Regions from separate parts of the Homo sapiens genome. Here all the other regions are linked to region 4. Evidence: fine-mapped expression QTL. A gene starts in region 4. Each other region holds a variant in brackets. All regions are shown on one strand. Distances are between the middles of the regions. Region 1 has its middle 16 kb from the start of MIR6069. Region 2 has its middle 66 kb from the start of MCM5. Region 3 overlaps TOM1 (target of myb1 membrane trafficking protein). Region 4 holds the start of HMOX1 (heme oxygenase 1).

What was found. PIP is the estimated chance that this variant, and not a neighbour inherited with it, causes the effect.
Region 1: its variant is fine-mapped to the expression of HMOX1 in unexposed skin (GTEx, PIP above 0.99). The same link has a PIP of 0.9 or more in sun-exposed skin.
Region 2: its variant is fine-mapped to the expression of HMOX1 in whole blood (INTERVAL, PIP above 0.99).
Region 3: its variant is fine-mapped to the expression of HMOX1 in whole blood (INTERVAL, PIP above 0.99).

Annotation. Positions count from the first base shown.
Region 1 is chr22:35,348,962-35,357,062 of GRCh38, forward strand. No RefSeq gene overlaps it. Among named protein-coding and RNA genes, the nearest start is that of MIR6069, 16 kb to the left of the region's middle. RefSeq lists enhancers at 356-888, 889-1,421, 2,012-2,520, 2,087-2,206, 3,338-4,213 and 2 more and a silencer at 1,867-1,986. The variant C/T (reference allele first, on the strand shown) is at 3,213.
Region 2 is chr22:35,461,852-35,469,952 of GRCh38, forward strand. No RefSeq gene overlaps it. Among named protein-coding and RNA genes, the nearest start is that of MCM5, 66 kb to the left of the region's middle. The variant T/G (reference allele first, on the strand shown) is at 3,766.
Region 3 is chr22:35,319,285-35,327,385 of GRCh38, forward strand. TOM1 (target of myb1 membrane trafficking protein) reads left to right here. Exons shown (of 15, transcript NM_005488.3): 3 at 2,675-2,753; 4 at 3,744-3,893; 5 at 4,212-4,346; 6 at 4,484-4,630; 7 at 7,987-8,101. Among named protein-coding and RNA genes, the nearest start is that of MIR3909, 12 kb to the right of the region's middle. RefSeq lists enhancers at 1-312, 3,646-4,845. The variant G/A (reference allele first, on the strand shown) is at 4,024.
Region 4 is chr22:35,377,038-35,385,138 of GRCh38, forward strand. It overlaps HMOX1 (heme oxygenase 1), which reads left to right and starts at 4,059. Exons shown (of 5, transcript NM_002133.3): 1 at 4,059-4,159; 2 at 6,069-6,189. The coding sequence starts at 4,137. RefSeq lists enhancers at 1-699, 1-344, 306-545 and silencers at 3,780-3,859, 4,160-4,329.

The DNA.
Region 1 (8,101 bases), 28 kb before region 4:
AGCAGCTGGGGGCAGGCACACTGGTGCCAGGCAGGGGAGGGGGAGGCCCTGCCGCCATCAGGATGCTCATGGTCCAGGCCAAGCTCCCTCTGCCACATCCAGGGCATCTGTGAGCTCCTGCCAGGTGCCCTACCCTGGCCCAGCCCTTTCAGTACCTCACAACAGCCCCAGGGGGTCAATGGTGTTGGCCACCAGTTACAAATGGGGAAACTGAGGCTGAGGGAGGAAGGGACTTGCCTGGTCATACACTAAGTAATGGAAGACTGGGACCCCCAACCTTCCTCACTGCTGCCTCACCTGCCTGCCCCACCCACACCCCACTGCCTGCTTCCCTCATTCTCTCCCTACTTAACTGGGGACCTCTTAGAGGGGAGTTGTGATTTTACAAGGATCAAAGCCAAGGCCTCCTCTCCCCTGTGTTAGCTGGGAAACCCAAGGAAACTTCCACAGAAGGCCCCCAGGGCTGGGAGGGCCTCAGGTGCTAAGGGTGAAAACTGCCAGGTTGTTCATTCCTCCCTGTGGGTGCATCCCCTGGGAGCCAGCTGCACACAGCATAGCGCTAGGTGCCCGCCAGACAGAAGTGAAGCGGCCAGGTGCCAGCCCTGTGGGGTCACGTGGGAGGGAAAGGGACGAGAAAGACAGACATAAACTCAATCATTGTTTCACGCTGTGAAAAGAAGAAGATGGGACGGGACGCCCAGGGCCAGGAGGCTCTCTGTGAGGACGGCCTAAGGCTGCTGAGGTAAGATGGGGTGGGCTGGGCCATGAAGGGCCTTGAATGCCAGGCAGGAGGTGGCCCCTGCAGAGGTCTCGGCTTGGCTGGCTGGAACAGTTCCAGGCTGCCTGAAGGCCTCCTTCAGAGAGAAGGCTGCTGGGGCTGCATGGGGGCTGGGGGGGGGGGCGCTGGCGGGAATTCATCAGTGCAGTCAGGCTGGGTTCCCTGGCAGCAGGCTCTGTCTGAGGCTGCAGGCCTGGGCGGGATCACTTTACAGCTGCAGGAAGTCTTGGCCCCAAGAAAATGAGGGCCAGCTGTCTGGTGGGAGCCTTGGGTAGGAGCAGGGCCTCCACCTGGCACCACAGGGCAGGATTAACGAGGTGCCGCCGCTCCCGCTGGGCCCAGCTACATCGGAAGGCGCTGGGCCGGGGGCATGGAGGGGAGGGGTTGAGTGGAGCTGGGAGGGGCTGGTGGGCAGGGGAAAGGGCGCCTGGGGGGCAGCCCCAGGCCTGCCTTTGAGGAAGCCTTTTGCAGAGCCTCCACCAAGCCCTCTCCCTCCTGGCTCCCCTGGGCCACCACGATCCCACCCTGGGCCTGGACACCGACCCCTCCACCTCCTGCCCTAGTGTCAGTACCCACCTCCCAGACCGGCCACTTCTGGGCTGTGTGACCTTAGGCAAATTACTTAACCTTTCTGTGCTTCTGTTTTCTCACTGGTAAAATGGGCAGATAACACTCGTTGCCTCATAGGGTTGTTAGGGTTGACTGAGCCAACAAGTAACTCAGCACCTGCCATGTAGACAATGCTCTGTACATGTTGTTATTGTCACGGATGGTTCCCTGCTCCCTTCCAGAATGGCCTCTGCTCCAGACACCTGGCTCAGAGCCCTGCCCCTCAGACTCCTCAGTAATTCTAGGGACCCCTGCTCTGCCTCTGGTATTGCCTTCCCAGCTCCAGAATAACGTCTGTCCCTACTCCCCACTGGGAGAGAACCAAAGGACTGTGTCTGTCTTTCCTCCTGGTCTGGGCTGCTAACCCTAAGAGGGTCAGGGCTGTCTTGATCCTGGCAACACGGCAGGGTCCCCCTGGCGTTCCTGGATTGGGCTCTGCGGGCTCTCGGTAGGCGCTTTAGGAAGCCTTTGCCCGCTCCAAGGTGGCTGGAGGTAGGCCCAGTTCTGAGTCCTGAGCACGGTCTACGGCCCCTGCTCAGGGTCAGTGTTTCAAGGCGACCACGAGATGGCAGTAGCACTGCATGTACAGGGCTTGCCGGGGCACTAGGGTGGAGTCCACCGCGGCCAAATCAGCCCCTCCCGGGTACAGACACCGGGAGAAAGGGGCGGGTGCTGCCGGCTCCTGCCCGCTCCTGCCCCGCGCGAGCTCACAGGCGCGCGCGTGCACACACACACGCGCACACGCCCTCTGACTGGTGGGGCTGAGTAACAATGGTGATGGGGCTGGGAGCTGGAGTCCGAGGGTCTGGCTTCACCGCCGGGCTCTGCTGTGGGACTACACAAGGGATTTCATCTCTGGAAGCCTCAGATCTTCTTAAACGTCCCGATTCACAGGGTTGTGGGGAGGATTTGGTGAGACAAGCTGGGAGCTCAGCTACGGGAGCTTTGGGTGGGCAAAAGTGAGCCCGGTCCCCTCCCTCTCTTTACAGAGCCCCGGTGTGCCGTTGCTGGGGCCCCCTGCTCCCGCGCCTTCTCAGCCGACACGCTCAGATCCGTGTGCATTGCCGTTTCTGTCTCCACGTGTAGACAAATCATGAGCTCGCCCAGTAACTCCAGCTCTACCACAGATTCCTTCTCTTTTCCGCCCTTCCCCTATGTCTAATTCCCTTCTCCAGCAGTGAGAAACCTGCTTCCCGCCGTCCTTCATTCCTTCTCTCCCCCCATCCCCGCAGAAACCAATCTCTGTTGCCACCACTGCCCCGTCCTGCCAGTGCCTCCCACCCTCTCCGCGTGGACCGCCACCACCCTGCCCCACAGACAGGCCCCTAGACACAGAAATCTTCTTTCTCACAGTTCTAGAGGCTGAAGTTCAACATCAAGGACGTGGACTCCATCTGTTCAGTTGGTTCCTTCCGGCCCCTCCGTGGCTGTATATGGTCATCTTCTCCCTGGGGCCTCACATCATATCCCCTCTGCATCTCTCTATGTTCAAAAGTCCCATTTTTATAAGGACAGCATTCATCAAGGATTAGAGTCCACCTAATGATCTATTGTACCTATTGTACCTTAATCACTTTTTTTTTTTTTTTTTTTGAGACAGAGTTTCACTCTTGTTGCCCAGGCTGGAGTGCAATGGCGCGATCTCGGCTTACTGCAACCTCCGCCTCCCAGTTCAAGCAATTATCCTGCCTCAGCCTCCTGAGTAGCTGAGATTACAGGCATGCGCCATCACACCTGGCTAATTTTGTATTTTTAGTAGAGACGGGTTTTCTCCATGTTGGCCAGGCTGGTCTCGAACTCCCAACCTCGTGTGATTCACCCGCCT[C/T]GGCCTCCCAAAGTGCTGGGATTACAGGTGTGAGCCACAGTGCCTGGCACTTCTTTAAAGGTCCTACCTCCAAATACAATCGCATTCTGATATACTAGGGATTAGAGATTCAACGTATGAATTCAAAGGGACGAAGCAGCCCTGTATTGCCCTCTGCTGCCCTCTAGGCCCTGGGTCCATTCTCCCAGACACACTGCTCTTTCGCAGGTGGCCACAGTGTCTTCAGAGGGGCTGCCACATGAAACACCCGCCTCCACTCCCTGCCCCCTGCCCCCTGCCCTAGTGGGAGTTTGAGGGTGGCTAGATTCATCCTAGGGCAGCCTAGCCTTAGATCCAAGGATTAGCCATGGGACCAGGAGCGAGCAGGGGTGCCGGCAGAGTGGAGGGAGATACAGGTGCTGGGAGCTGGGCTGGGGCTGCTCTCCTGGTCCCCATGTCCGCTTGTTTTTTCAGAGCAGACCCAAGCGGGTAAGCTGGCAGGTTTCACTTCCACCCACCCTGGTACAGGGCGAGACTGGAGGAAGCAGCTTCGCCGGGCCGAATCCTCACCCCTTGCCTCTGACTCAGGACTCCCGTGACGTCTTCCTGCCCCTGCTGCAGGCTGGCCCTGCACCCTCTGTGCACCGTGGACCAGGCTGGCCAGCAGAGGGAAGGAACCCAAGCTGACCAGGGCCCCAAATCCCCAGTGGGTCAGAGTCAGGTTGGCAGGGCACTTGGACCTCTTGAGGCGGGTGAGAAATGTGCAGACAGGGAAGTGGAGGCCCAGGGAGGGGAGGGGCCTGCCCTGACCAGTGTACTGCCTCCCTACCTGGTGCAGGGGCCCAGGAGGCTCTGTGTGCCAGCCCAGCCTGCCCGGGGAGGAAGCAGCCCCCACCCACGCACAAGCACAGGGAAGTCAGTGCAGGGTGGAGGGTGGGGACTCCTGGGGCCCCCTGTGTCAGGTCCAAGCACGGCCCAGGAGTCAGCCAACCGAGCTTCCAGCGGTGCACAGACACTGACTTCCTGTTTGATTTGGAGCAAGCCTTCTCCTCTCTCTGGGCCTCAGTTTCCCCATCTGTTAATCGGCTTGATTTAAGAGAGCGTAAGGCCCCTTTGCACTCTGCTTTTCTGCCCTATCAACCCCCAAATTCCATAATCCTCCTTCCAAAAAGGAAAGAAATACGAGGAAAGAAACTCAAATATCTACAAGAGAGGGAAGCAGGACCCCGGGTTTATCTCCCCTCCAGGACCAGCGGCGATAGGGAAACAACTGCCCAAGCTTCAGTGGGACCAATGGGTGGAGGCGGCCACCCACACACCCTGCTGAATGCCCGCACAGGAAGCTGACCGCCTAGGGGCAGGAGGGAAGCGAAACCCAAGCCGGGGACATCCTTGCACCTGCCCTGGGGTACCCCTAGGAAAGGGAAAAGCAAGTGGGTGAACTGAGGAATGGGGGTGCTGCCCATGCTCCCCACAGGACCCTGCCCTCACTGGAGCCCTTGGAAGCTCTGTTAAAAATGAATCTTCAGCCAGGCGCAGTGGCTCACGCCTGTAATCGCAGCACTTTGGGAGGCCGAGGTGGGTGGATCACCCGAGGTCAGGAGTTCAAGACCAGCCTGGCTAACATGGCGAAACCCTGTCTCTACTAAAAATGCAAAAATTAGCCAGGCGTGGTTGTGGGTGTCTGTAATCCCAGCTACCAGGGAGGCTGAGGCAGAAGAATCGCTTGAACCCGGGAGGCGGAGGCTGCAGTGAGCCGAAATCGCGCCACTGTACTCCAGCCTGGGCAACAAGAGTGAGACTCCATCTCAAAAAATATACAAATTAAAAAAAAAAAAAAGAATCTTCATTTTACAAAGGAGGGGGTGAGGTCAGAAAAGTCAACTAGCTAATCCAAAGCCACACAGCCGGCAAGTGGAAACATTGAGTCCTCTTTTCTGGGGAGAAAAGGTCCCTGGGGGATCAGGATGAAGTGCACTCTATTCTGGGCCTGGGGCTGCGCCTAGGTCTGCCTTGGGGCTAGAAAAGTCACTGTGTACATTATCTGTATGAGTAGCCCTGAGCCCTGCAAGCCACTTAGGCTGCAGAGGCCACTGGACCCCTGCAGGGAGAAGGCTGGCTGCTGAGATGGGGCCCTCCCTCAGGATCCCTTCTCAGGCCCAGACCAGTGCAGAGACTTGCCCAAGGCCACACAGCAAATTTGTAAAAGAACTGAAACTAGAATCCCGGTCCTCCATAGCACCTGCCCCGCAGGAGGTGGGCGAATGGAGGACAGCTGGGAAGTCTGTCTTCAGAAGGCCCTCCCCAGCACCCTGCACCGTGCTCTGGGCTCCCACAGAACTTTCAGCCTCAGAGACCAACTAGGCCAGTGGGTTCTAAAACCTTCTCTCCCCAAGGAAATCTTCTATCATGGTCTCTCCCCAAGACTATGGATTTAGAAGAGTTTTGTTTGTTTTGATTTTTGGCCACAAAACATTCCACAATGCATTGAGTTGTTAATATTTTTCCCTTTTGGGCATCAGTAATCAAGACTTTTTTTTTTTTTTTTTTTTGAGACAGAGTCCCGCTGTGTCCCCCAGGCTGGAGTGCAGTGGCGCAATATCGGCTTACTGCAACCTCCGCCTCCCGGGTTCAAGTGATTCTCCTGCCTCAGCCTCCCAAGTAGCTGGGATTACAGACACATGCCACCACGCCTGGCTAATTTTTGTATTTTTAGTAGAGATGGGGTCTCACCATGTTGGCTAGGCTGGTCTCGAGCTCCTGACCTCAAGTGATCCACCCACCTCGACCTCCCAAAGTGCTGGGATTACAGGTGCGAGGCACTGCGCCCGGCAGTAATCAGACTTTTAATACACCAATGCAGTATCTCGTTCCATCCAAAAGTGCTCCAGTTGCCTGGGCAGCCTCATCTGAGGGAACTAACAGCACAGCCTCTGTTTGCCCAGCCCCTCTGGGCCCACCCACTGTTTGGAGCAGAACCCCAACCCAAAAGGGCAGGAGCTGAAGATAGCCATGCTCACTGCTGGCCAGGGGCTCCCCCACGGCTCCTGCCAGCCTTGGCCTTCACACGCATTGGGCATCTCCATCGACGGCCACCCTGGCTTCTGCACCGTCCCCACGTAAACATGGCTCTGCCCTCCCATCCCCTCACCTCAACTCTGCAACACAGGGACCCAGGAGACAGAGGCAAGGAAGGGAGAGTGAAGGAGCTGGCCATACCCTCCTGAAGTGCTAAGGGGAGGGAGGAGGGGATATCAAATTCGATGTGAGATTAAACTTCAAGACTGGACTTTTTTTTTTTTTTTTGAGATGGGATCTCATTCTGTCACCCACGCTGGAGTGTAGTGGCGCTATTTCGGCTCACTGCAGCCTCTGCCTCCTGGGTTCAAGTGATTCTCCTGCCTCAGCCACCCAAGTAGCTGGGATTACAGGCGTGTGCCACTATGTCTGGCTAATTTTTGTGTTTGTAGCAGAGATAGGGTTTCATCATGTTGGCCAGGCTGGTCTGAAACTCCTGAGCTCAAGCAATCCACCCACCTCGGCCTCCCAAAGTGCTGGGATTACATGTGTGAGCCACTGCGCCAAGATTGGACTTTTTTGTACTTGAAAATGACAAGAAAGTTAGCAAAACCACCCAAGATGTCACAAAGGACCCTGGTGGAGGCTGGGCATGGTTGAAGACAATGGTTGGAGAAAAGGAAGCTCTCTCATGTCCATGTTTGTGCACAGGGACTTTGGATCTGCAAGCTTGGGGAGGGAGCTGGAGACAGCTGGACTGCTCTGCTCTTAAGAGGGAGGTGAATCCTACCGGGCCATCTGGAAGAGGGCCTGAGAGCACAGAGACAAGAACGGGGAAAGGGAAGAGAGAGAAGGCAGGAGAGGGTGAGCTACTGGGCCCCAGGCAAAGAGTTGGGGGAGGATCAGAGGTCAACTACTGGGGTAGAGGGAGGGAAGGGAGAGGAGTAGCCAAAAAAGATTCGGAAGAACAGATGCTGTATTAGATTGTTCTCTAGGTTCTGTCTAATGTCACCCCTCTCTGTGGCCCTGAGATCTTTAGTAAATGCTCTGCTCATAAGTATTTGTCAAGAGTAGGGTTTTGGGCCAGGCATGGTGACTCACCCCTGTAATCCCAGCACTTTGGGCGGCAGAGACGGATGGATCACCTGAGGTCAGGAGTTCGAGACTAGCCTGGCCAACATGGTGAAACCTCATCTCTACTAAAAATACAAAAAATTAGCCAGACGTGGAGGCGGGCGCATGTAATCCCAGCTACTTGGGAGGCTGAGACAAGAGAATTGCCCAAACCCGGGAGGTGGAGTTGCAGTGAGCAGAGATGGCGCCATTGCACCCCAGCCTGGGCGACAGAGTGAGACTCCGTCTCAAAAAAAATAAAAAAAGAGTAGGGTTTTGGGGAACTGGGGAAGGAGCAAGTTTCATGTCTGAGTCAGCACAGTTCAGAGCAGAAATAGGAAGAAGCTGGGACAGCAGGGTGGGGGAAGTGGTGAAAACACAAGTACCAGGGATTGCCGGAACCTTCAGGAGGACTTTGGGCTTTTACTGGACGTGAAGTTAGGGGAGGACTCTGCCCTTCCCTCAGTGACTTCTTCACATGCTGCCAAATACATTTCATTTTTTTTTTTAAAGAAATGGGGTCGTGCTCTGTTGCCCAGATTGGAATGCCGCGGCATGATTGCAGCTCACTGCAACCTCGGCTTCCCCCGTCCCCTCTCCCCTACCCCCTGCTCAAGCGGTCCTCCCACCCAGCCTCCTGAGTACCTAGGACTACAGGCACATACCACCACGCCCAGCTAATTTTTATTTTTATTTATTTATTTTATTTATTATTATTTTTTTAGAGGGAGTCTTGCTCTGTCACCCAGGCTGGAGTGCAGTGGTGTGATCTCGGCTCA
Region 2 (8,101 bases), 85 kb after region 4:
CAGTGGTGAGATCTCGGCTCACTGCAGCCTCCACCTCCTGGATTCAAGTGATTCTCCTGCCTCAGCCTCCCGAGTACTGGGGACTACAGGCATGTGCCACCACACTCGGCTAATTTTTGTATTTTTTACTAGAGATGGGGTTTTGCCATGTTGGCCAGGCTGGTCTCGAACTCTTGACCTCAAGTGATCCACCCGCCTTGGCCTCCCAAAGTACTGGGATTACAAGCATGAGCCACTGTACCCGGCCCCATTTGCTTCTGATTATAAACATTCAAATTTACTCTTTGGATAGGTCATACGTGCAGATGGAACAAAATTCAATTCACAAGGCCCAAGGGTATCCAGAGAAACATCTTCCTCCTTCCCACACTGCCCGCCTCGGGCCCTGGCCACTGGCTGCTCTCCCCAGAGACCGTCCATGGGACTAGTTCTTTGGGTCTCCTGGTAGAGTTCCTGTCTTACCCACGTGTACATACTTAGACCAGAGCCTCCCAATTCTGGCTGCACACGAGAATCTCCTGGGGAGTTTTACAAAGTCCTGATATCAAGGCCCTACTCCACATCAATGGAACCAGAGTCTGTGGGGGCAGGCCCAGGCACTGGGCCACGCCGAAGCCTCCTGGCAGTTCGGATGTGCAGGCACACACACATCTGCCTGCACCCAAGCTCAGTGAGGAAGAAGGGAGGACAGAGGATGGGCAGCCCTGCCTGGGTACCAGACCCTCTCACATGCTCTTGTTTGCTTCTCGTGACATTCCTGCCAGACGGCATCATTGTCACCCCCCATTTCACAGGCAAGGAAGATGAGACTCAGGGGCCACACAACTGCCAGGGTCCCCCAGCCAGGAGTGAGGCCTGGAATCTGAGCCCAGGCCAGCTGCTTCTGACGTCTTCCTTCCTCGGGGCCATGCTGGTGGGAGGATAATAATAAAACCGACCCACAAAGATGTTGTGAGACTGAGATGTGCTAATGGAGAGGAAGGGCTTTGAAAGTCAGCCAAGTGGAGCTCTTACCCACGCGCAGGCTCATTAAAGTCCTGAGAGGGACACAGGGAGCGGGTGATTGCCCTATTTGCCTCTCCTTTGATCAAGTCCCCCTGTCTGCCTTCAGCTTCTGTTTTGCCTCCCTCTCCTGCCCTCCTTCCCTTCTCCTCCACCTACTACTTTCTCTGCCTTCCCAGCCCTTTGTTCTGGGCTGTCCTGCCCCCACCACCAACCCCTACCCCCAGTTTCTCCTTCCTTCTATCTTTATCCTTTGTCAGATCTGGTTTTTTAGTTTGCCACTCTGGCCCTGCTTGAGGGGCTCAGGGACTAGCCCACGGATCATAAGAACCAAGGCCTCCAACAGAGGATTTGTAGAGGTGATGTCACAAGTCTGCAGTTCTGAGCAGCAGGTGGAGAGAAGGCAAGTGGTCCCCCTGAGGCCCCAGACCCAGCCTTTCCAGGGCATCATTTACCCTATCCATCCATCCATCCATCCATCCACCCACCATCCATCCATCTACCCACCCATCGACCCACCATCCATCCATCCATCCATCCACCCACCATCCATCCATCGATCTACCCACCCATCCACCCATGATTCATCCATCCACCCATCCACTCATCCATCTATCTACCCACCCATCCACCCACTATCCATCCATCCATCCATCCATCTACCCACCCATCCACCCACCATCCATCCATCCATCCATCCACCCATCCACCTATCTATCCATTTTCCCACTCAGTTATCTATCCACCCACCCATCCACCTATCCATTCACTCATCCATCCATCTACCCATTCATCCACTCATCCATTCATCCATCCATCCACCCATCCACCCATCTATCCATTTGCCCACTCAGTTATCTATCCATCCACCCATCCACCCATCCATTCACTCATCCATCCATCTACCCATTCATCCACTCATCCATCCAGCCATCCATCCATCCATTCATCTGCTCATCCACCCATCCATTCATCCACCCATTCATCTACTTACTTACTCATCCATCCATCCATTCATCTATCCTCACTTTTGCTGTGTGCCAGGCCCTGAAGGCACAGCCATGAATAAGAGAAACACAGGCCCTCTTCTCATCCATCTGGAAGACAACAATTAAATAATTGCTTTAAACAAAATGCTATAGGACAGTGTCCTGCTCCGGTGAAGGTAGCCTTTTGTAATAGTGCTCTAGGTCAAGAAGAAGACAGACTCTATTTTAGCACACCAAGTGGTAGAACAGCAAGTCTGGCTGTCTTTGGGGAAGTCCACCCTGGGACCAGATCTCGGTGCTGGTCTCACCATCTCCCCTTCCCTACCTGCAGTGTCTGAAATCTTCCAGTGCTCTCCTGCCCCAACCCTTTCAACAGCAGAGGAAATAGAGGGACAGACAGAGGACAAAGAAGGGGCTCCAAGAAAGATGCTTGATGGTCATTGCAGAAGGCAAGGCCCAGGGTCTAGCTGTGAGGCCCTGTCCCTTGGTTGGGATCAAGTTGACAAGACAAGAGCAGCTGCCCCATGTGTGGCAGGAAGCTATTGCTGAGACCTGGAAGTTGAGTGATCATTATTTTGGATTCTGGCAGTAGGGAGACCATATTGTTTTGTATTTTGTTCCCACCCTCACACAGTAATGATGATGCCAGTGAGGACAACACTGGTTAACACTTCTGCGGGGGAGGTTTGCCCTGTACCAGGTGCAGTTATGTGCCCTGGATACCTATGACTAATTAGAGGTAGGGCTGCTGCCAGCATCCCTTAAACAGGTGTGGCCCCTGGAGGCACAGGGCTGTGAAGTAACTTCCTAAACTCACTCAGCTGTGGCAAAACCAAGCGAGGCCCTTGTAGCTGGGGTTACACTGGAGAGTCACACTCTTCCACGGACTGCCTCAACTACTCCACTCTGCCAACTCAACTATTAGCAGAATGGTGCCTGGGGTAACAGTGGACCACCAAGGACAGTAAAAGTCTCCAAGCACACTCTTTAGGCAGTGGCATGAGGTAGTGGCAGCTTGCCCTCTTCAGGGGGATAAGAGGATAGTGGCTGAGAGTGGTATCCTGGAGCCAGTCTCCTGGGTTTGAGTCCCAACTCTGCCTTTTACTACCGTGTGACTTTGGGCAACTTACCCTCTCTGTGTGTCATTTTTCTCATCTATAAAATAAGACCACTCACAGTGTTTCCGTCAAGGTTGATGTGAAGATTAATGGGATAATGGCGGTCAGGAGCTTGGCCTCGGTCTTATTTCTGTATCAGCTGGGGGACTGTGGGCAGGTACTCAGCCTTTCTAGACCCCACTTTCCTCTTATCTGGGATGAAAAGAAACCCAGCTGGGACCTCACACATGACAAAGGCTCAGTGAGGTGGAGAGTCCCAAGCAGATGAGAGGGATGTCTGGTTGCAGGGCAAAGGGACTGGGTCCTAGGAGTATTTGGATGCGTGGCTGGGTTGGATGAGGCAATCGACAGTGGACAGGCTGTCCTGGGAAGCCTGCTCCCCAGCTGCCTGGGGTGAATGCCAGGGCCTGCAGCTTTCACAGGGGCCGTGGCTGGGGCCAGCATCCGTGCATTCTGGGGCCTGGTCTTGCTGCCTCTTTGAACACTGGCTTCAGGTGTTCAAATTCCTATGGTTCAGTGTCCTCCCTGCGGTCCTGAGTAGCACTGCAGGGCTGTGGCCAGGAGCCCAGGGCTGGTGTTTGACCTTCTGGGCCTATGAGTGCCGAGGTGGCCAGGGCTCCTCTCGGCCTCCTCAGTGTGTTAGGTCTTTCTCCTTT[T/G]ATTTTTATTTATTTATTTGAGACAAGGTCTTGCTCTGTTGCCCAGGGTAGAGTGCAGTGGGACCATCGTAGCTCACTGCGACCTTGAACTCCTGGGCTCAAGTGATCCTAGGACTACAGATTCCAGTAGCTGGGCCTACAGACATGTGCCACCACATCTGGCTAGTTTTTTTGTTTGTTTGTTTTTGAGATGGAGTCTCGCTCTGATGTCCAGGCTGGAGTGCAGTGGCGCGATCTCAGCTCACTGCAACCTCCACCTCCCGGGTTCAAGTGATTCTTCTGCCTCAGCCTCCCAAGTAGCTGAGGATTACAGGCGCACACCACCATGCCAGGTTAATTTTTGTATTTTTTGTAGAGATGAGGTTTCACTGTGTTGGCCAGGCTGGTCTCAAACTCCCAACCTCAAGTGATCCATCCATCTCAGCCTCCCAAAGTCATGCCTGGCTAATTTAAAAATATATTTATTTTTATAGGGACAAGTTCTTGCTATGTTTCCCAGGCTGGTCTCAAACTTCTGGGCTCAAGTGATCCTCCTGCCTCGGCTTCCCAAAGTGCTGGGATTACAGGCATGAGCCATCCATCTGGCCGCTCTTTCTTTTTAAATTATTTATTGAAAAAAATTAAAAAATTTTTATGGGTACATAGTAGGTGTATATATTTACTGGGTAGATGAGATATCCATTACCTCAAGCATTTATCCTTTGTGTTACAAACAACCCAATTATACTGTTAGTTATTTTGAAATGTACAATTAAATTATTATTGGCTATAATTACCCTGCTGTGCTATCAAATACTAGATCTTATTCATTCCTTTTTTTCTGAGACAGGGTCTTGTTCTGTCACGTAGGCTGGAGTACAGTGCTGTGATCATGGCTCACTGCAGCCTTGACCTCCTGGGCCCAAGCAATCCTCCCACTTCAGCCTCCCAAGTAGCTGGGACTATAGGTGTGCACCACCATGTCCGGCTAATTTTGTTTATTTTTTACAGAGACAGGGTCTTACTATGTTTCCCAGGCTGGTGTTGAACTCCTGGGTTCACAAATTCCTCCTGCCTCAGCCTCCCAAAGTGTTGCTATTATAGGTGTGAGCCACCATGCCTGGCCTTATTCATTCTTTCTACTATATTTTTGGACCCATTAACCATCCCTACTTTCCCCTGCCCCCCAACTACCCTTCCCAGCGTATAACCATCATTCTACTCTCTATCTCCATGGTTCAATTGTTTTAATTTTTAGCTCCCACAAATAAGTGAGAACATGTGAAGTTCGTCTTTCTGTGCCCGGCTTGCTTCACTTAACATAATGACCTCCAGTTTCATCCATGTTGTTGCAAATGACAGGATTTCATTCTTTTTTTTTTTTTTTTTTTTTGAGACGGAGTCTCCCTCTGTCGCCAGGCTGGAGTGCAGTGGCACGATCTCGGCTCACTGCAACCTCCAACTCCCTGGTTCAAGCGACTCTCCTGCCTCAGCCTCCCAAGTAGCTGGGATTACAGGCGTGCGCCACCATGCCCAGCTAATTTTTGTATTTTTAGGAGAGACAGGGTTTCACCGTGTTGGCCAGGGTGGCCTCTATCTCCTGCCCTTGTGTTCTGCCCGCCTTGGCCTCCCAAAGTGCTAGGATTACAGGCGTGAGCCACTGTGCCCAGCCTTTTGCCCATTTTAAAACTGGGTTATTAGGATTTTTCCTATAGGGTTGTTTGAGTTCCTTATCTATTCGATTATTAATCCCTTGTCAGATGTATAGTTTGCAAATATTTTCTCCCCTTCTGTGGGCTGTCTCTTCGCCTTGCTGATTGTTTCCTTTGCTGTGCAGAAGCTTTTTAACTTGATGGGATCCCATTTGTCCATTTTTGCTTTGGTTGCCTGTGCTTGTGAGGTATTTTTCAAGAAATCCGCCCAGAACAACGTCCTGGAGAGTTTCCCCATCTCCTTTTTTTCAAGTCTTATGCTTATTTATATTTATAAATATGACTTTTAGGTTTTTTTGAGGTGTGATTTGCCTCTTTTCAGTGCACAGTTTTACAAGTTTTGAAAAACAAAGTCACGCAAACACTGCCACAATCAAGACACGGAGCAGTTCCATCACCCCCCCGAAATTCTCTAATCTCAGCCCCTCAGCATCCCTGGATGCCAGGCTTAAGAAGTGGACTTCCTTCCCCTGGCAGAAGGAGGGCAGGGTCGGGCTCCGCGTCTGGGGGCTGTAGGCAGGGCTGGGGCTGTGCCATCTGCCTGCTCCTTCCTTCTGGCTGAGAGCACTGGGAGGAGGAGCCTGCAGGCTGAGGACAGGCTGTGCTGGGAGCAGGAAGCAAAGATCCCAGGCCCCAGAGCAGCTTCTGACCTTTAGAGGCTGCCTTTGTCTTGGACAGCCAGCTCTCCAGCTGCCTGCGGGGAATGCCCGGGCCTGCAGCTTTCACAGGAGCCATGGCCTGGGCCAGCTTCCATGTAGGCACCAAACGAAACTGCAGAGCCAGGCATGGCCCTGGGGTGCTGGGCCACAATGCCAGGCTCAGGAAACCAGTGTCCTGCCTGACACTGGGCCCTGGAACGGCCCAGCGAACTCCATTTTTTTTTTTTTTCATGAGGAAGGCAGGAGATGATAAGACACCTCCTCATCACAGTGTGCTTTGATGAGCTCTGCTAGGTTGGTCTGAGACCACTGTCTGGAGCCTGAACACTGCCAGAGTCATCTTTGCGTCTTCAGGGGAAATGTACTAGTGAATTGGTTGCATGTGCAACAAGCACTTGCTGGACTCTGGGGCCAGAACTCCCTGGGTTCAAATCCTGGGCTTACCACTGAGGCTCTGTGGCTTTGGGAAAATTATTTAGTGTGCCTCAGTTTTCTCATATATGAAATGGCTATAATAAGACTAATACCTATCTCAGAGAGTCGTAAGGATTAAATGAAAAAACACACTTAAAACACGTAGAATGTCCCTTGGTAAGTGTTAGCTGGCATTAATGTTATTTTGTTTCGGTTGTTTTGTTTTTGTTTGTGTGTGTGTGGTGTTTTTTTTTTTTTTTTTTTTTTTTGAGACACAGTCTCACTTTGTCACCCAGGCTAGAGTGCAGTGGCACAATCTTGGCTCACTGCAACCTCTGCCTTCCAGGTTCAAGCTATTCTCCTGCCTCAGCCTCCCGAGTAGCTGGAATTACAGGTGCCTGCCACCATGCCCGGCTAATTTTTTGTATTTTTAGTAGAGATGGAGTTTCACCATGTTAGCCAGGATGGTCTCCATCTCCTGACCTCATGCTCCACCCACCTCAGTTTCCCAGAGTGCTGGGATTACAAGCGTGAGCCACCACGCCCAGCATGATTTGTTTTGTTTTGTTTTTGAGACAGAGTTTGGCTTTGTCGCCCAGGCTGGAGTGCAGTGGCGCAATCTTGGCTCACTGCAACCTCTGCCTCTCAGACTCAAGCAGTTCTCCAGACTCAGCCTCCCGAGTAGCTGGGATTACAGGCACCCGCCATCATGCTGGGCTAATTTTTGTATTTTTAGTAGAGATGGGATTTCACCATGTTGGCCAGGCTGGTCTCAAACTCCTGACCTCAGGTGATCCACCCACCTTGGCCTCCCAAAGTGCTGGGATTACAGGCATGAGCCACCGCACATGGCCCCCATTAATGTTATTTTTATTGTTATTATTATTAAGTGGGAAAAAAAACTCACATTCTGATTCCAGCTGTGCCATCAACTGGCTGTATGGTGCTGGGCAATTCATGTCCCCTCTCTGAGCCTTATGTTCCACAGATACCATTGCTGGACAATTTCAACAATAGAAATAAGAGTGATGTTTATAGAGTTTTCTGCTCTAGCATGGTGCTCTGTCAATTATATTTTTGTCTTATTTGATTCTCTCGAGAAGTCTGTATAGTAAAGTGTCATTACCCACATTTTACAGATAAACAAACTGAGGTTTAGAGAGAATAAATAACTCCCCAGGGTCACCTGTCTACAGCTGGGGGAGACAGAAGTTGAACCCAGACGGTCCTGAATCCAAGGCTCAGAGGTTCAACTCCTGCTGTCCGCTGTTCAGGTGAAGTCAGGGGAATGGACTCAGGGTAGCCAGGCTGGCTGTGTGGTCTGCCCAAGGCATGGGTGACAGCAGCAGAAGACAGAGCGGGGAGGTCAGTGTAAAGGCAGAGGGATGGGCAGGGCCTCTGCCAGCCCTTGACCTCCTGGAGAAGCCAGTGAGGCTGACCTGGGGGCCTTCCCTGGGACATGTCCCTCATCCTTCCTCTACTCGAGGAGCCCAACAAGATACATGCTTGTGCCTGAGGGTAGGGTTGTTAGACTTCCCTGCATCAGCACCTTGTCTTTTAAGCAAGAGAGCT
Region 3 (8,101 bases), 58 kb before region 4:
TGCATTGCTATTTATTTGAGCACTTTGTGTGTTCCAGGCAACACAGGAGGCACTAGGGACCCAGCAGTGATCAAAGGCAGGCATGACCCTTGACCTCACCAAGCATGGCACCTAAACTTAGCCTCGTTGCTAAAGTGTCTCCCCCACTGGGTTGTGGCCTCCTTGTCATACACTTTGTGCTCCCAGCAGAGTACCGGACATCATGGGCCCACAGCAGTGGCAAGGCCAGAACTTCCGATTCCCAGTGCTTCCCTCTAGGGAGAGAAGGCGTCCAACAAGGACGCTGTCCCTGCGCTCTAGGAGGCTTCTTCTCTCCCAGGGTGGGCCCCCAGGTCAGTGGCGCATGGCGGAACATGCCAGGGAATGATTCTGATTCCCTTGTGTCTAGGCCACCCTAGAAGAGGTGGAAAGAAGTCACTATAAAGCGCTGAAGTAGCCCGTGGGTCAGTGGCCAGGCCAAGACCAGGAGCCAGGGACGGGCGAGGGGCTGCCCAGGGAGGCAAGGGTTGGAAACTGCTCTCAGGCTTCTGGGCCAGGACCCCCCTTGGTGGGCCACCATCCCTTTCCCCACCGTGTCCCTTCCACCGCAGGCCTGACCGCCTCCATAGCTCTAGCCCCCAGGCAGGCTCTGTCCCTAGGAAGCCTTGCCTCTGCCTTCACTCCTGCTGAGAACCAGTGCCAGGGTTCCAGGCTCTCCTGCCTTAGTCCTGGATGGGGTCAGCACTGACAGCCAGGCAGACAGCCGGATGGGTCCCAGTGGCCACTGGCCAGGCTGAGAAATGTTACTTGTGCTTCAGTAGTGTGATGGGCTCTAGGAAGGGAAGCTGTCCAAAGAGAACACCATCCCTGCCCTCTAGCAAGCTTCTTCTCTACCCAGGGTGGGCCCCCAGTTCAATGTGGCATGGCAGAACAGGCCAGGGAGACTGGAGGACCTGGGAAAGTGTTGTGGAAGGGGTGGATTTTAGCTGAGGCTTCACCTCATGGATGTGGAGGTCAGGAGCCTTCAGGGTGCAAGTGGGGGCCCTGCACAAAGGCTTTTAGACAAGAGCAGTCAGGGCAGCACTGAGTATACCTGTATAGGGCCGAGGGTGGAGGATGGTGGGAATCACAGAGGGGACAGGGAGAGCAGGCTGGCACCCCAGCTTCCAGGGGCCTCCCAACACCGTGACCCCTAGGCTTCTTCAGCCCTCCCCGACCTCCCCCACACTCAGTGTGGCCTCCTCTTAGTTCCTCCAAGGCATCAAGCTCCTCTGCACCCAAGACCTTGGTCCAGGCTCTGACCTTGACCCAAACTGCTCTGCCCCCACTCCCCCCAGGTGGTCCTTCCCATCTTTCAAGGCCCAACTACAAGACCACCCCCTCGGAGGTCTTTTCTGACCACCCCCATCCTCACCTCTGCTCTTTTTCCAGGACCTGCTTATTCCTTGCTCTTCTTTGGATCTCCCCGCAAGGTGGGGAGGAGGCAGGGCCATATGGTCTTGTTTGCCACTGTGTCCCCAGCACCTAGCATGGTGCTACATACATATTGGGTGCTTAATAAGAGTTGAATGGGCCAGACATGGTGGCTCACACTGGTAGTCTCAGCGTTTTGGGAGGCTGAGGCAGGAGGATCACTTGAGCCCAGGAGTTCCGGGCTACAGCGAGCTGTGATTGCACCACTGCACTCCAGCCTGGGCGACAGAGTGAGACTCTGTCTCAGAAGGAAAAAAAAAAAAAACTTGAATGGAAGGGTAAATGGACAGATAGAGCAGCTGGCCAGGACGGGGCATCAGAACACTATGCTAGCTGGGCTCAGGGACTCATGCCTGTAATCACAACATATTGGGAGGCCGAGGTGGGAGAATCATTTGAGCCCAGGAGTTTGAGACCAGCCTGGGCAACATAGCAAGACCCCATCTCTATTTTTGTAATGAAAACATTATGCCTCCAGGTTATTTGTTCTTAAACTTGAGCATGCATAAGAAACCCTTGGGGAGCATGAGAAGCATTCAGATTCAGGGGCCCCACTCCCTGAGAATTTGGTTCAGGTGGTCTAGGGTGGGGACCTAGGGTTCTGCTTTTTTTTTTTGAATGTCCTTTGTTTTTTTGAGACAGGGTCTCACTCTGTCGCCCAGGCTGGAGTACAGTGGCGCAATCTCGGCTCTCACTCTGTTGCCCAGGCTGGAGTACAGTGGCGTAATCTCGGCTCACTGCAACCTCTGCCTCCTGGGTTCAAGCGATTCTCCCGCCTCAACCTCCCAAGTAGCTGGGATTACAGGGTCATACCACCACGCCCGGCAAATTTTTGTATTTTTAGTAGAGACAGGGTTTCACCATGTTGGCCAGGCTGGTCTTGAACTCCTGGCCTCAAGTGATCCACCTGCCTCAGCCTCCCAAAGTCCTGGGATTACAGGCATGAGCCACCGCGCCCGGCCAGGTTCTGCACTTTTAACAAAACGCTCTCATCTTTTCTCAAAGTGACTCTGCTGCTGGAGGTCCAGGGGCCACAGGTTGTGAGTCCCTGCTAAGCAATGGGCTAGGAAGATTCTGATGTGATCAGAACCTGGCTGGATACACAAAACAGGTGGGGCACAGGGAGGATGGGCCAATAAGAACTGTTCCAACTCTCCAGGGTCTCTGGTGTTAGGTAAGGGGGCTCTATTCCTAAGCCCACCCTTTTTCTTGTCCTCCTTAGTCCCAAAGATGCCCTCCGAGCAGTAAAGAAGAGAATCGTGGGGAATAAGAACTTCCACGAGGTGATGCTGGCTCTCACAGTGAGTGCCCCATCTGTCTGTCCTGTGGCAGGACTACGGTCCACTGAAAGTCACCTCCCCTCAGACCCAGCAGGACTCCCAGCCTCCTCTGAGCTCCTCATTTGAGAGCTGGAAAGGTCTGTAGGCAACGCACTGTCCTGTCTACACTGCAGGCGGATGCAGAATGGCAAGAGGCCATTTGGAAAGGTTCTCCCCAATCCCCCAGCATGGGAACAGACGCTTACATCACTCCAGAACCACTGGCAGGGAGAGCCTGGGCCAAAGGACCTGTGGGTGACATTGAAGCTCAGTAAACCCAGGCCTCCGCGGGGGCAGGGAGGCCGGCTGACTGAGTTGGGTGCTGCTCGGCACTTTGGTGCTCTGGCAAATGAATGTAAAATAAATACCAGTGGCTGAGAACAGTCTTGCCCACACCACTGAACCAGCCCAGATCTCAGGGCGGCCAGACACACGTGGGCCTCCTAGCCGTCAGCATGGGTTTGGCTGGGGAAGATATAAATGCTGTCCCACCCTCCTCCACAAGCAGCATTTATATCCAGGTGAATTGGCTTAAGCAAAAAGCAAAGGCAATTCCTGCAGTGGGAAGTGGAGAGTGGGGAGGGAAGTTCAGTGCCTTTTCCCTGGGCCACAGGCTCACCAGTCGATTGACATCTCAGATGCTCCTTGATTTCCTCTTGGAGAGCCCCTTCTCTCTAGACCATGTTTAGCTCAGAGACAGCATTGGGATTCTGCGTGCACTGACGCCAGTCAGGGAAGGAAGTCCAGCCCACACACCATACCTCTGCCCACCCTAGGCCGTGCCCTCCAGTAAACAAGTCCCCCAGTCCTGGCATTGTCCCAGTCCTCCACATTCAAGGGTCTCACTCCAGGAAGTCCCATCTCCTCTCCCGGGCCTCCTCTCTGGGACACAGGAGGAGCCACGAGGGTGGGGGTTCTGAGCACCTCCTCTCCTCTGACCAAGGTGCTCGACGGCACCTCTCGGCCCTCCAGGTCTTAGAAACCTGTGTCAAGAACTGCGGGCACCGCTTCCACGTGCTGGTGGCCAGCCAGGACTTCGTGGAGAGTGTGCTGGTGAGGACCATCCTGCCCAAGAACAACCCACCCACCATCGTGCATGACAAAGTGCTCAACCTCATCCAGGTGAGTGCCAGGACAGGGCAGGGCACGGCCAGGAAGAGCTGTCAGTGCAGGAGCTTCCTGCCCAGTGGAGAGTCGAGGCCATCGTGTTTGTCCCAGGCTCCGCTTCTCATTTCGGGGCGTCTCGGTTGTC[G/A]GCTGGTGGGATGTTCTGTGGGGAGGGAGGCTTGCCAACTGCGTGCTTTGCTGTGGAGTGGGCAGGGCAGATGTAGTTAAAAAAAAAAAAAAAGCAGGGAAAGAATGTCTGTTCTCTGTCTGAGTGCCAGGTGGGCAGGCTCACAGGTGAGCTGTGGTTACCGGCTGTGTCCCCTTGTCCCCTCTCAGTCCTGGGCTGACGCGTTCCGCAGCTCGCCCGATCTGACAGGTGTGGTCACCATCTATGAGGACCTGCGGAGGAAAGGCCTGGAGTTCCCCATGACTGACCTGGACATGCTGTCACCCATCCACACACCCCAGAGGGTGAGAGAACTGCCGTACCGGGAACCAAGGGAAGGGAGGCAGGACTCATCCCCAGAGACATCACCAGGCTGGCCCCTGACTTCCTGGGCTCTTGATGTTCCCAGGAGCCCTCACTGATCCTGTTTTCCTCCCACTAGACCGTGTTCAACTCAGAGACACAATCAGGACAGGATTCTGTGGGCACTGACTCCAGCCAGCAAGAGGACTCTGGCCAGCATGCTGCCCCTCTGCCCGCCCCGCCCATACTCTCCGGTGACACGCCCATAGCACCAACCCCGGAACAGGTAAACGAGCCTGGGGTCAGAACCGTCAGGTCCAGGCAGGTGGGCCACACACGTCAGGGAGGGCCCCCTGTCAGAATTTACCATCCACGGAGCCTCCACTTCTTCCTCACAGCAGCCCACAGGGTATGTGTGGTTCTTCCTGTTTGAGCGATGAGACTCAGAGAGGTCCATTCACTTGCCCAGAGCACACAGTCATCAGAGACAGTTGGGATCCAAGCTCACGTCTGTCTGACTCCTGGCAGGCACTGCCCTGTACCTTGGCCATTTTCCAACCTGTGTTTTCTGCGGGGCCCTCCAACAGCACCATGGAGAGGTGTCCTGTACGCAGCCCCTTCAGGCCAGCTCCACCTGTGTGGTTTCTTACACACTCACAGCTTTCATTTGAGCTGGGCATGGTCACGTGCGTCTGTGATCTTAGCTTCTCAAAGGTTCAGGCAGGAGGATGGCTTGAGCCCAGGAGTTTGAGACCAGGCTGGGCAACATAGAGAGACCTGTTTCAAAAAAAAAAAAAAAAAAAAAAAAGGCTTCATTTGAAGAGAGGTTCTGCCTGAAAAGTTTTCAAACATCTGTGCAAAAAATAAAAAACATATGTACATTGTACCATGCTGCTTCCCATGAAGTCTCAAGAAGGTCTGAAGCTTTTTTGTTTGTTCTGAAACAGTCTTGCTCTGTCACCCAGGCTGGAGTGCAGTGGCACCATCTAGGCTCACTGCAACCTCTCTCTCCCAGGTTCAAGCAATTCTCCTGCCTCAGCCTCCTGAGTAGCTGGGACTACAGGCATGAGCCACCATGCCCAGCTAATTTTTTGTATTTTTAGTAGAGATGGAGTTTCATCATGTTGGCCAGGCTAGTCTCGAACTCCTGAGCTCAAGTGATCTACTCGTCTTGGCCTCCTAAAGTGCTGGGATTACAGGCATGAGCCACCACACCCAGCCAAGAAGGTTTGAGGCTTAGTATGAGATTCTAGGGGACAGGTTTTCCCAGCCCTCTGACTAGCTTTGAAGGATTACCCACCTCAGAGCAGGTGGCACCCTGGGCATGTCACTTCCTTCCTCCTCATGGCCCACTGGGCCATGAGCTGCTTGTGGAGTGCCATGGCTGCTGTATCTGCTGAGTGACTTCTACAGCCATGACCAGCTCGTAGAGCTGGGGGCTTGTCATTCTAGACTTTTGGCTGCTGGGGTGGGGGCAGAGGCCTGCACACTGTGGAGACACCCACGTTAAAGGTGTTGTACACACATCAGGCCCATCACATCCGCGGAGCGTAAAGGTGGAGCTGCTGAGTGTGCTGGTGAGTTAGACACGGATGTGTGATGGAAAGAAAAGTGAAGCTTAACTTTCCCAATAAGCGTCCCCACTGCCCACTTTTTGTATCATTTGAACTCATTCTCACCCTAACCTATTTGAAGAGAAACTTCCATGATTTGTTTTCTCATAGCAAGTTATGAAATCACCCCTCAGAGTTACAGATATTACTAGAAAATTTTGCTAACTGGACAAAATTATTAACGCACTGCCCGTTTGCCCCAAGAATACTCTTGTCTCTAATCCTAATGTAACCTCATATACATTTCTGTTACGTTAGGATTGGAGACAAGTTCTGTTTAGAAATAACTCCAAGAACAGTTTTTATGTTTTATTTTCATGTTGAAAATCAGTCAGGTTTACTTCAGCCTCAAAGAGCATGTTTATGTAAAATTAAATGAGTGCTGACAGCGAGCTGCACTTTTTTTTTCTGAGTGGGTTAAAGGTGTGTAAAAAATTGTAAAACCACCTTGTGATTGTCTAACTCAGTTATGATTTTAACCAATTTTCTGAAGTCTAGCATCTGTGTGGATTAAGACGCTAATTACTTCCAATGCAAGAAGGTGCTTGCTAAACAAAACTAATCTTTGTTTAATTCGAGAGTCCCCTTTTGTCTCTTGGGACATGTTAAGACATCAGGTGTGCAGTGATGTTACTCCCAGACTCCTCTGTAATTAAGTCCCATCTGATTTGGATACATGGGGTTTGTGATCAGTAGTTTTTCCACTCACTCATACCAAGAGTGTTCATTAAGTAAGCCAAATAGATCAAACATTTTGCAGGTTTTGGAAGGTGTCAGTGAACCATAGTGGATATACTACTAGTCTCTACACTCCATTTCTTCATCTATAAAAGCAGGGATATTGATGTCTACCATGGTAAAAAATTAAGTTAGCAATATATGTTCAATGCTTGGCACTTATTAGGTAGTCTATAAATGGTAGCTGCTGTCACAATCATGAATGTATATAGTGACACTCTGAAATCAACTATAACTCAGCCACATGATTTAGAATGTACCAGCATTTCTCAAAACATAAAAAGGTTCTTCAGTCAAATAAATCTTAGAAGCTTTCAGACTGATCTTTTCCCAGGCATTCCCAGTGTGCATGAGGGCATTAAACACCCTACAAGGTCCCACAGCATAAGATCCTTATACCAATGGCCTTTCACAAGCTAACCTCTTTGAGGAGACTGCAGCTTTATTGAAAATGTTTCCCCAAGCCCAACTCCTTGGAACCCTTTGACCATTGAAAACCTGCCCACATCCCTTGGAACAAGTGCTAAATCTGAGTTTCATATTCAAGGTGGGGTACAGGGCAAGGACTATCCTTAGATGAGCCTGGGACACCAAAATAGACCAGAAACAGGACAAAATCCCAGTCCACTAGGAGGAGAAAGAGGGCAGAAGCCCAGTCCACTAGGAGGAGAGAGAGGGTGGAATCCCAGTCCTCTAGGAGGAGAGAGAGAGGACGGAATCCCAGTCCTCTAGGAGGAGAGAGGGCGGGATCCCAGTCCTCTAGGAGGAGAGAGACGGCGGGATCCCAGTCCTCTAGGAGGAGAGAGGGTGGGATCCCAGTCCTCTAGGAGGAGAGAGAGGGGGGGATCCCAGTCTTCTAGGAGAGAGGGCGGAATCCCAGTCCTCTAGGAGGAGAGAGAGAGGGCAGAATCCCAGTCCTCTAGTGGGAGAGAGAGAGAGGGCCTGCAGCGTCCCTCCCCGCCTTGTGGGGAGCCACCCTCCAGGGCCTTGTTAGCTGCTGTGTTAGACCCAGGAGATGCTGGAGTCTTCCAGCCACACGTGGTGGCTCATTCCGGTGTGGAGATGGTAACGGTTGGTAGCGCCTCTGTGAGGGGTCTGTAGAAGGGGTGGGGCAGGCCTCTAGTGCAGAGCTGTCACTTTGGGAGCCAGGAGGGAGGCTGCCTAGAGAGGCTGCTGGGAGGTCGGCTCCCTGGTGCTGCACCCAGGGTTGGTGGTACTGGGTTCTGTCGCTGTGAGTAACATGGGCCCCAGAACCCTGGCTTCTCTCACCACGATCAACTGTGTGTTTCAGATTGGGAAGCTGCGCAGTGAGCTGGAGATGGTGAGTGGGAACGTGAGGGTGATGTCGGAGATGCTGACGGAGCTGGTGCCCACCCAGGCCGAGCCCGCAGACCTGGAGCTGCTGC
Region 4 (8,101 bases):
GCCTTGGGAATGCTGAGTCGCGATTTCCTCATCCCCTCGTGCAGCTGCATTTCTGCTGCGTCATGTTTGGGAGGGGGGACTCGCGGAAACAAAGGGAAGGCGGATTTTGCTAGATTTTGCTGAGTCACCAGTGCCTCCTCAGCTTCTCTTTAGGTGGGAGGTGAAAGGGCAGCTTTAATGGTAGGCAGGAGGAAGTGAAACTTCTAGAAAACGGCAGAAGCCTCTTGTTTGTCTTTTCTAAGTCTGTGCCTTTCCCCTGCTGGGTCCCCCAGCTCCCACCCTGTGAAGTCCACCTCAATCTGCCCCTGATTTAATGTTGCAATCCACCGAGGCCTTCTTATGCTTCACATCTCTCTGACTTCTGCATCTGCCTCATCTCTTCTGCCTCCAGCAGGAGAAAGTTCTCTACTTTTTTTGCCTGGATAATTATTGTATTTTTAGTAGAGATGGGGGTTTCACCATGTTGGTCAGGCTGGTCTTGAACTCCTGACCTCAGGTGATCAGCCCACCTCAGCCTCCCAAAGTGCTGGGATTATAGGTATGAGCCACCGTGCCCAGCCTCATCCTCCATCTTCAAAGCTAGCAGCATGGCATCTCCCAGTCTCTCTCTCTGTCCTCTGCTTTCTTTGTCACCTTCTGTATGTGCAACCATCCAGCCTCCCTCTTATAAGGCCCAAGAGGATAATCCAAGATAATTCCCCATCTCAACATCCTTGACTTAATCACTTCTGCAAGATCCTTTTGCTATGTAAGGTAGCAAAAAGGTAACCTATTCACAGGTTCTGGTGATTAGAATGTGGACACCTTTAAGGGGCTTTTATTTGGCCCAGCAGGAGGAGAGAGAATAGCATTTGGATCATCCTGTTGCTTGACTAAAAAGAAGGGGAAGTCAGGAGGCTGAATCAGCATGCGAAAGGGCCACAAATTCAGCCCTGGGACAGCCTAGAGGACCAGAACAACTCTGGCCTGGCCTCTTGCACCCCAGCAACCCACTGTGTGGGGGGCTGTTCTAACGAAGTCTGGGGCTCCCAGAGAACAGTTAGAAAAGAAAGCAAGCCCAGACCGGCAGCCAGGAACCCTGGGTCACTGGAGGTTCTCTTTCCAATGGGGGGCATAGCCTGGCCAAGTCCCTCCTGCTCTTGGGGTCCCTGCTTCCCTGTGTTAAATAAAAAGGGTTCAGATCTCATGAGTTTTACCCTCTAGGGTCGCTGAATGGACAGACTCTGGATCTATACACGCAAACTCATCTCCCCTAAACTCCTGGACCCTCTGTGAGAAGGGTTGGAGTGTGGTGGTCAGGACTGTGGGGACTGGCTTCAAAGTGCTGTAGTTTGAATCCTGGCTCTTCCATCATTAACTGTATGACTTGGGAAAATGACTTATCCTCTTTGTCCCTCAGTGCTCATGTGGGCAAAATAGAGATGAAAATAGCTTGCAAGGCTGTTGTCAGGATGGGCTGCAATCACGCGCGTGAAGTCTCTGCACATAGTAAATTCTCAATAAAGGCTGGTTAGAATGACAGTTTGGAATTGTGGCTTGGTTCCAGCCCATTCTATCAGCCCAGCAATATTACAGCCTAACAATATTATTATTTTTTCCCAGAAAGAGACCTTGAAGCATCTATTCATTCAGGCATGCATTCAGTATTAACTGTGACCTACCAGGCACTATTCCAGGAACTGGGAATTTACAAAGCAAAGTAGTAGGCAAGGTCTCCACCTTTGTGCTTTACATGCCACTGTTGGGGCTCAGAAAGTGATACCAGGACAACTGGTGCTTTGACATGATGAGAGGCCTTAGGAGCTGCCTCAGAGTCAAGGTCCCTGTAAGCTTGTCTTGTTCCCCCGACAAGCACAGGGAGAGACGCTCTCTGGAATTTCCTTATCTGACCAAGAACACTTCTTTACAAAAGAAATGCAATTGTGTTAAGTCTTTTTTTCCTTTGAGACAGAGTCTCGCTCTTGTCACCCAGGCTGGAGTGCAGTGGCACTATCTTGGCTCACTGCAACCTCCTCCTCCTCCCGGGTTCAAGCGATTCTCCTGCCTCAGCCTCCCAAAGTGCTGGGATTACAGGTGTGAGCCACCGCGCCCGGCCAGTGTTAAGCCCTTTTTCTAGTAATCTCATCAAATATCCAGGAAAGATCAACCACTGGAGAGAGAAAGAGACTGGGAGTCATCACCAGACCCAGACAGATTTACCTGTTCTTCTGAGGACAGTGCCAAGAGATTACCTGGGGGACTTTATCTGCCTAGGACAACCTTTGTCCCTGTGCGGCTCCACCTCCACCTTCCCTTAAAGTCGGCCTTTCACCTCCAGGGCCATTCCTTCTTGCTAATGATTTACTGTCTTTCAAAAGAATTGTCTGCATTCCCTATCTCCCTTCTCCCCTATAAAAAAGGCTGGGTAGCCTCTGTACTCCACTGGGTTACAGGGTCACCATTCTTCCGTGATTACCCCATTACAATACATTTTTGTATGTCTTTTCTCCTCTTAACCTGACTTTTGTCGGTTGGTTTTCGGGGAACCTTCAGAGGAAGAAGGGGAATTTTTTTCAAGGCCCCTTAGCTCACCCTTGGGAGGATGATCCTTTCCAATACAATCTCAGAAGTGCCTCTGGGCTGTAGTGGCCCTAGGCTGAATTCCAGGAAGTTTTTTTTTTTTTTTTTTGTTTTTTTTTTTTTTTGAGGGACAGCGTCTTGTTCTGTTGCCCAGGTTAGAATACAGTAGCGTGGTCACAGCTCACTCCAGCCTCTACATCCCAGGCTCAAGTGAACCTCCAGCCTCAGCCTCCCAAGTAGCTGGGACCACAGGCATGTGCCACCATGCCCAGCTAATTTATTTTATATTTTGTAGAGACAGGGTCTCCCTATGTTGCCCAGGCCAGTCTCGAACTCAAAGCAATCTTCCCACCTCGACTGGGCTCAAAGCGCTCTTCCCACCTCAACCTCCCAAAGTACTGGGACTACAGGTGTGAGCTACCATGCCAGGCCTGAAAGCCATCTTAAAAAAAAAATCTTAGAATGAGAATCACAGTATTGGGAAAGGACTGTATGAATCATCTGGTCCATTCGTTTTGTCCTCTGGGTTCACCCAGTGACCCTATTTCCCCCGAGTTCTAAGGAGTCCACCTCATGCAGAATTGATTCAATAGGCGATCAGCAAGGGCCAGCTCTGCTCTGGGCCCTGAGCAGGCACTGAGTATAAGTCAGACCTGAATGTGCCTGGAAGAGTGTCCCACGCATTCCAGCAGGGAAGCAGTTTGTATGACAGGTGTCCCAGTCCAGGCGGATACCAGGTGCTGCCAGAGTGTGGAGGAGGCAGGCGGGGACTTAGTCTCCTCCCTGGGTTTGGACACTGGCATCCTGCTTTATGTGTGACACCACTGCACCCCTCTGAGCCTCGGTTTCCCCATCTGTAAAATAGAAGCGATCTACCCTCACAGGTCAGTTGTAGGGATGAACCATGAAAATACTAGAGTCTCTGTTTTTTGACAGGAACTCAAAAAACAGATCCTAAATGTACATTTAAAGAGGGTGTGAGGAGGCAAGCAGTCAGCAGAGGATTCCAGCAGGTGACATTTTAGGGAGCTGGAGACAGCAGAGCCTGGGGTTGCTAAGTTCCTGATGTTGCCCACCAGGCTATTGCTCTGAGCAGCGCTGCCTCCCAGCTTTCTGGAACCTTCTGGGACGCCTGGGGTGCATCAAGTCCCAAGGGGACAGGGAGCAGAAGGGGGGGCTCTGGAAGGAGCAAAATCACACCCAGAGCCTGCAGCTTCTCAGATTTCCTTAAAGGTTTTGTGTGTGTGTGTGTGTGTGTGTGTGTGTGTATGTGTGTGTGTGTGTGTGTGTGTGTGTGTTTTCTCTAAAAGTCCTATGGCCAGACTTTGTTTCCCAAGGGTCATATGACTGCTCCTCTCCACCCCACACTGGCCCGGGGCGGGCTGGGCGCGGGCCCCTGCGGGTGTTGCAACGCCCGGCCAGAAAGTGGGCATCAGCTGTTCCGCCTGGCCCACGTGACCCGCCGAGCATAAATGTGACCGGCCGCGGCTCCGGCAGTCAACGCCTGCCTCCTCTCGAGCGTCCTCAGCGCAGCCGCCGCCCGCGGAGCCAGCACGAACGAGCCCAGCACCGGCCGGATGGAGCGTCCGCAACCCGACAGGCAAGCGCGGGGCGCGGGACGCGGGACGGGCGCCTTTCTCTCCCAACCCTGCTTGCGTCCTAGCCCCACCCCGGGACACTGCCACACAGCGACAGAGCCCAGGAGCCAGAAACTTGGGCTCTGGAGTCAGGAGGTGCGGGGTTCTGATCCTGCCTGTGCCCGTAGGGTAGTTGGAGGGAGGAACGGTAATTTACATGCCTGGCACCCTGGTATGCGGTTGGTGACCAAGATGGGAGTGTCCCTAGAGTATCCAGTCTTTGAGGTAGCCAATTTTTTTTTTAATCCTACTTTCGAGGTGTGTTTGGAGTTGCTCTCTGCTGAATCTAGATCTCTGGGGCTCTGCCAGCCTGGGGGAGCATGCTTGGTTCTCTTGGTGGCATCTGTCCCTCACTAGCTACGGAGGACCTGAGCCAGACATCACCCTGGCTGCGGTGTTCCATGTCTCACAGATAGCCCAGTTCAGGGAGGCGACATGCCCAAGAGTGCTCAGTTAGCTGGTGTCAGAACTGGGCCTTGAACCTTGGTCTGCCCACCTCCAGGTCTCACTCATTCCCTTCTTTCAATAATTTGTTAGTATTTTTTTTTTTAACTCCTGGGCTTAAGCATCCTCCCACCTCAGCCTCCAGAGTAGCTGGGACTTACAGACATGTGCCATTTCTCCTGAGACTTTGACCAGCTGTGTTGTAGAACAGGGAAGCAGGGCAGGAGAAAAGGGAAAAATGACAATTCTGTGGGGAGGCAGGGATACGGACCCATGACAGAAATACTCCCAGAAAGACTTTTTCTTTGACTAAAGCAGACTTTCTCAGGCTTTTTAACCCTGACGCCTTCATGATGAGCATAACATGATAGGGGGTCATGAGATTTGCATCTGGAACTTTAACAAAATAACTGAATTAAATATTGGGTCTAAAAGCCAATCAAAGCAATTACAAACTTGGAGATGCCGGTTCATGGGGCTGCTGCTTCTTCCTGGGTTATGCTGTACCTCCTCCTCCTCTCCACTGCGAACTACCTGTACCAGGATTTCCCCCTTGGTTTGGGGGACTGTATTATTTAGTGTTTTAATGACTGAAGAGTGTTTACAAAGCTGCGAGAGCCACCATGCCCAGCCTGAATTTGTTTTTTGTTTTTTGTTTTTTTGTTTTTTTGCTTTTTTGCTTTTCTTTTTTTGAGATGGAGTGTTGCTCTGTTGCCCAGGCTGGAGTGCAGTGGCGCGATCTCGGCTCACTGCAACCTCTGCCTCCTGGGTTCAAGCGATTCTCCTGCCTCAGCCTCCCAAGTAGTTGGGATTACAGGCGCCCACTACCATGCCCGGCTATTTTTTTTTTTTTTTTTGTATTTTTAGTAGAGATAGGGTTTCACCATGTTGGCCAGGCTGGGCTCAAACTCCTGGCCTCAGGTGATCTGCCCGCCTCAGCCTCCCAAAGTGCTAGGATTACAGGCGTGAGCCACCATGCCTGGCCCTTTTTTTCTTTTTTTTTCTTTTTTTGAGATGGAGTCTCTCTGTCACCAAGTCTGGAGTGCAGTGGTGTGATCTCAGCTCACTGCAACCTCTGCCTCCGGGATTCAAGCAATTACAGGCATAATTGCTGGGATTACAGGCACCTGCCACCATGCCCGGCTAATTTTTGTATTTTTAGTAGAGACGGGGTTTCACCATGTTTGCCAGGCTGGTCTCGAACTCCTGACCTCAGGTGATCCACCTGCCTTGGCCTCCCAAAGCGCTGGGATTACAGGCGTGAGCCACCGTGCCCAGCCACAAGGCTGCATCTTAAAGCGATTGAGAACGTGGCCTGAATGAGGATGGGAGTCTCTTGAAGGCCTGCCCACAGGTGGGAGGCTCAGCAGTTGGGAAGGACCCCACCCCCAGCCAGCTTTGTGTTCACCTTTCCCATTTCCTCCTCAGCATGCCCCAGGATTTGTCAGAGGCCCTGAAGGAGGCCACCAAGGAGGTGCACACCCAGGCAGAGAATGCTGAGTTCATGAGGAACTTTCAGAAGGGCCAGGTGACCCGAGACGGCTTCAAGGTATGTGGCTTGGTGGGACTAGCCCTGGTGGAGGGTGTGGCAGGTGTGGGTGGACCCAAGGCTCAGACCAGTGGTTTAAGTGGGGATGCTGAGGGACCAGATGGGCATGTCCAATAGAATCATCTTAAAAATGATGACACTGAGGCTCAGAGAGGGAAGGTGAGTTACCCAAGGTCACACAGCAAGTTCAGCCTGCTCTGTAATGTTGTGGAGGGGCTGGGGCAGCAGTGCCGTTGACTGAGCACCGGTTCCATGTTGGGCATTTTGTACACGTGGTTTCTAATCTGTGCTTCAACCCTGACGAGAAAGATGAGGACTGGAAGGCTCAGAGAGGTTCAGTGACTAACAGAAGGTCACACAGCCAGTAAGTGGAAAAGGCTGAAATCAACCAAGACCGATTTCAGCCTTGTACTCCTTGTATTTCAGAGCTTGTACTCCTGATCTAACTCGAATTTGCCTCTGAAGATAAGGAATAATATAGGTTGGAGTCTTAACAGAACCCTTTTCTAACAGTGAGACTGAGGGTGCCTCATCTAATCTCCCTAAGCCACGTTTTCCCCATCTGTAAAAGAGTATTTCAACAGCAGGGTTTTCTTAAGCACCCACTATATGCCAGGTACTGATTTTGCTGTTTCCCAGCACTGTTGTGAAATTCATGCAAATAGAAGGAAAGCACTTGATGAAGAACCGGGAAGATACTGGGTGTTAAAACATCAGCGTGGGGAAGAGCTTGTTCAGGTTGAACAGAGGGTGTGGGGGTGGGGAGTAGGGAGCTATATCCCACCACCTTCATCCCAGTCCCTTTTGCAATCTGCACCCTCTGCCACCCCCTACTTCCAACATGAGACATGCTTTATTTATTTTATTTTATCTGAGACAGAGTCTCACTCTGTTGTCCGGGCTGGAGTGCAATGGCAAGATCTCGGTGCCCTGAAACCTCCGCATCCTAAGTTCAAGCGATTCTCCTGCCTCAGCCTCCCAAGTAGCTGGGACTACAGGTGCCCACCACCACACCTGGCCAATTTTTGTATTTTTTTAGTAGAGACAGGGTTTTACCATGTTGGCCAGGCTGGTCTCGAACTCCTGACCTCAGATGATCCACCCGTCTTGGTCTCCCAAAGTGCTGGGATTAGAGGTGTGAGCCACCACCCGGCCGAGACATGCTTTAATGAGGAGAGATTTAATCTGTGGTTCCAGGCTGGGTGGGGTCCTTGGGCCTGTAATGGGTCTTCCTCATCCTCCTCCCCTCTCCCTTAAAAAGATGAGGTACACCCAGTTGCTGCAGTGTGACTGGAGACAGTGGGTGCAGGGAGGTGAATGCTGGAATATCCCATCCCCAGCCAGCTTAGACTTTGGATTTTGCCTCTAAGTCACAGGGTTCTAAGGAGGCGCCAAGATCCATGAGAGAATCCAGTGCTCACTTACATTAAGCTGGTGGACGTGGCACTTATCACAGCCCTTCTCATGTGAGCGCTAAGTGCCAGGCTGCCCTCTGTGCTGGCCCAGATCCTCTCACTTAATCCTCACACCAGCCCCATCTAGTATGTGGCAGGTGAGGGAACTGACTAGCACAGTTGGCTAGCACAGTCACACGGACCTCAGATCATCTGCTCTAGGATAGGATAGGAAGCTGGGACCAGAGAAAGCAAGTGGCTCACCCATGGTCACACAGTTAAGGACTGGCAGAGTTGGGTAAGAACCAGGTCCGTCACACTCAAAAACCCAGGCTCTTTTGTACCAGACTGCCTGGCTTTCTGTCCCCTCAAGGAATAGAGCTGCTTTGAATGTTTGTGGCTCAGAAATAACTCAGAAACTCCAACCTAAATGTCTTAACTTTGTTCTCCTTCAAATTTAAACGGGCGTATTAATGTGTAACGGGAGTTAGTGCCCCAAGCCAAGGTACACTCAAGAC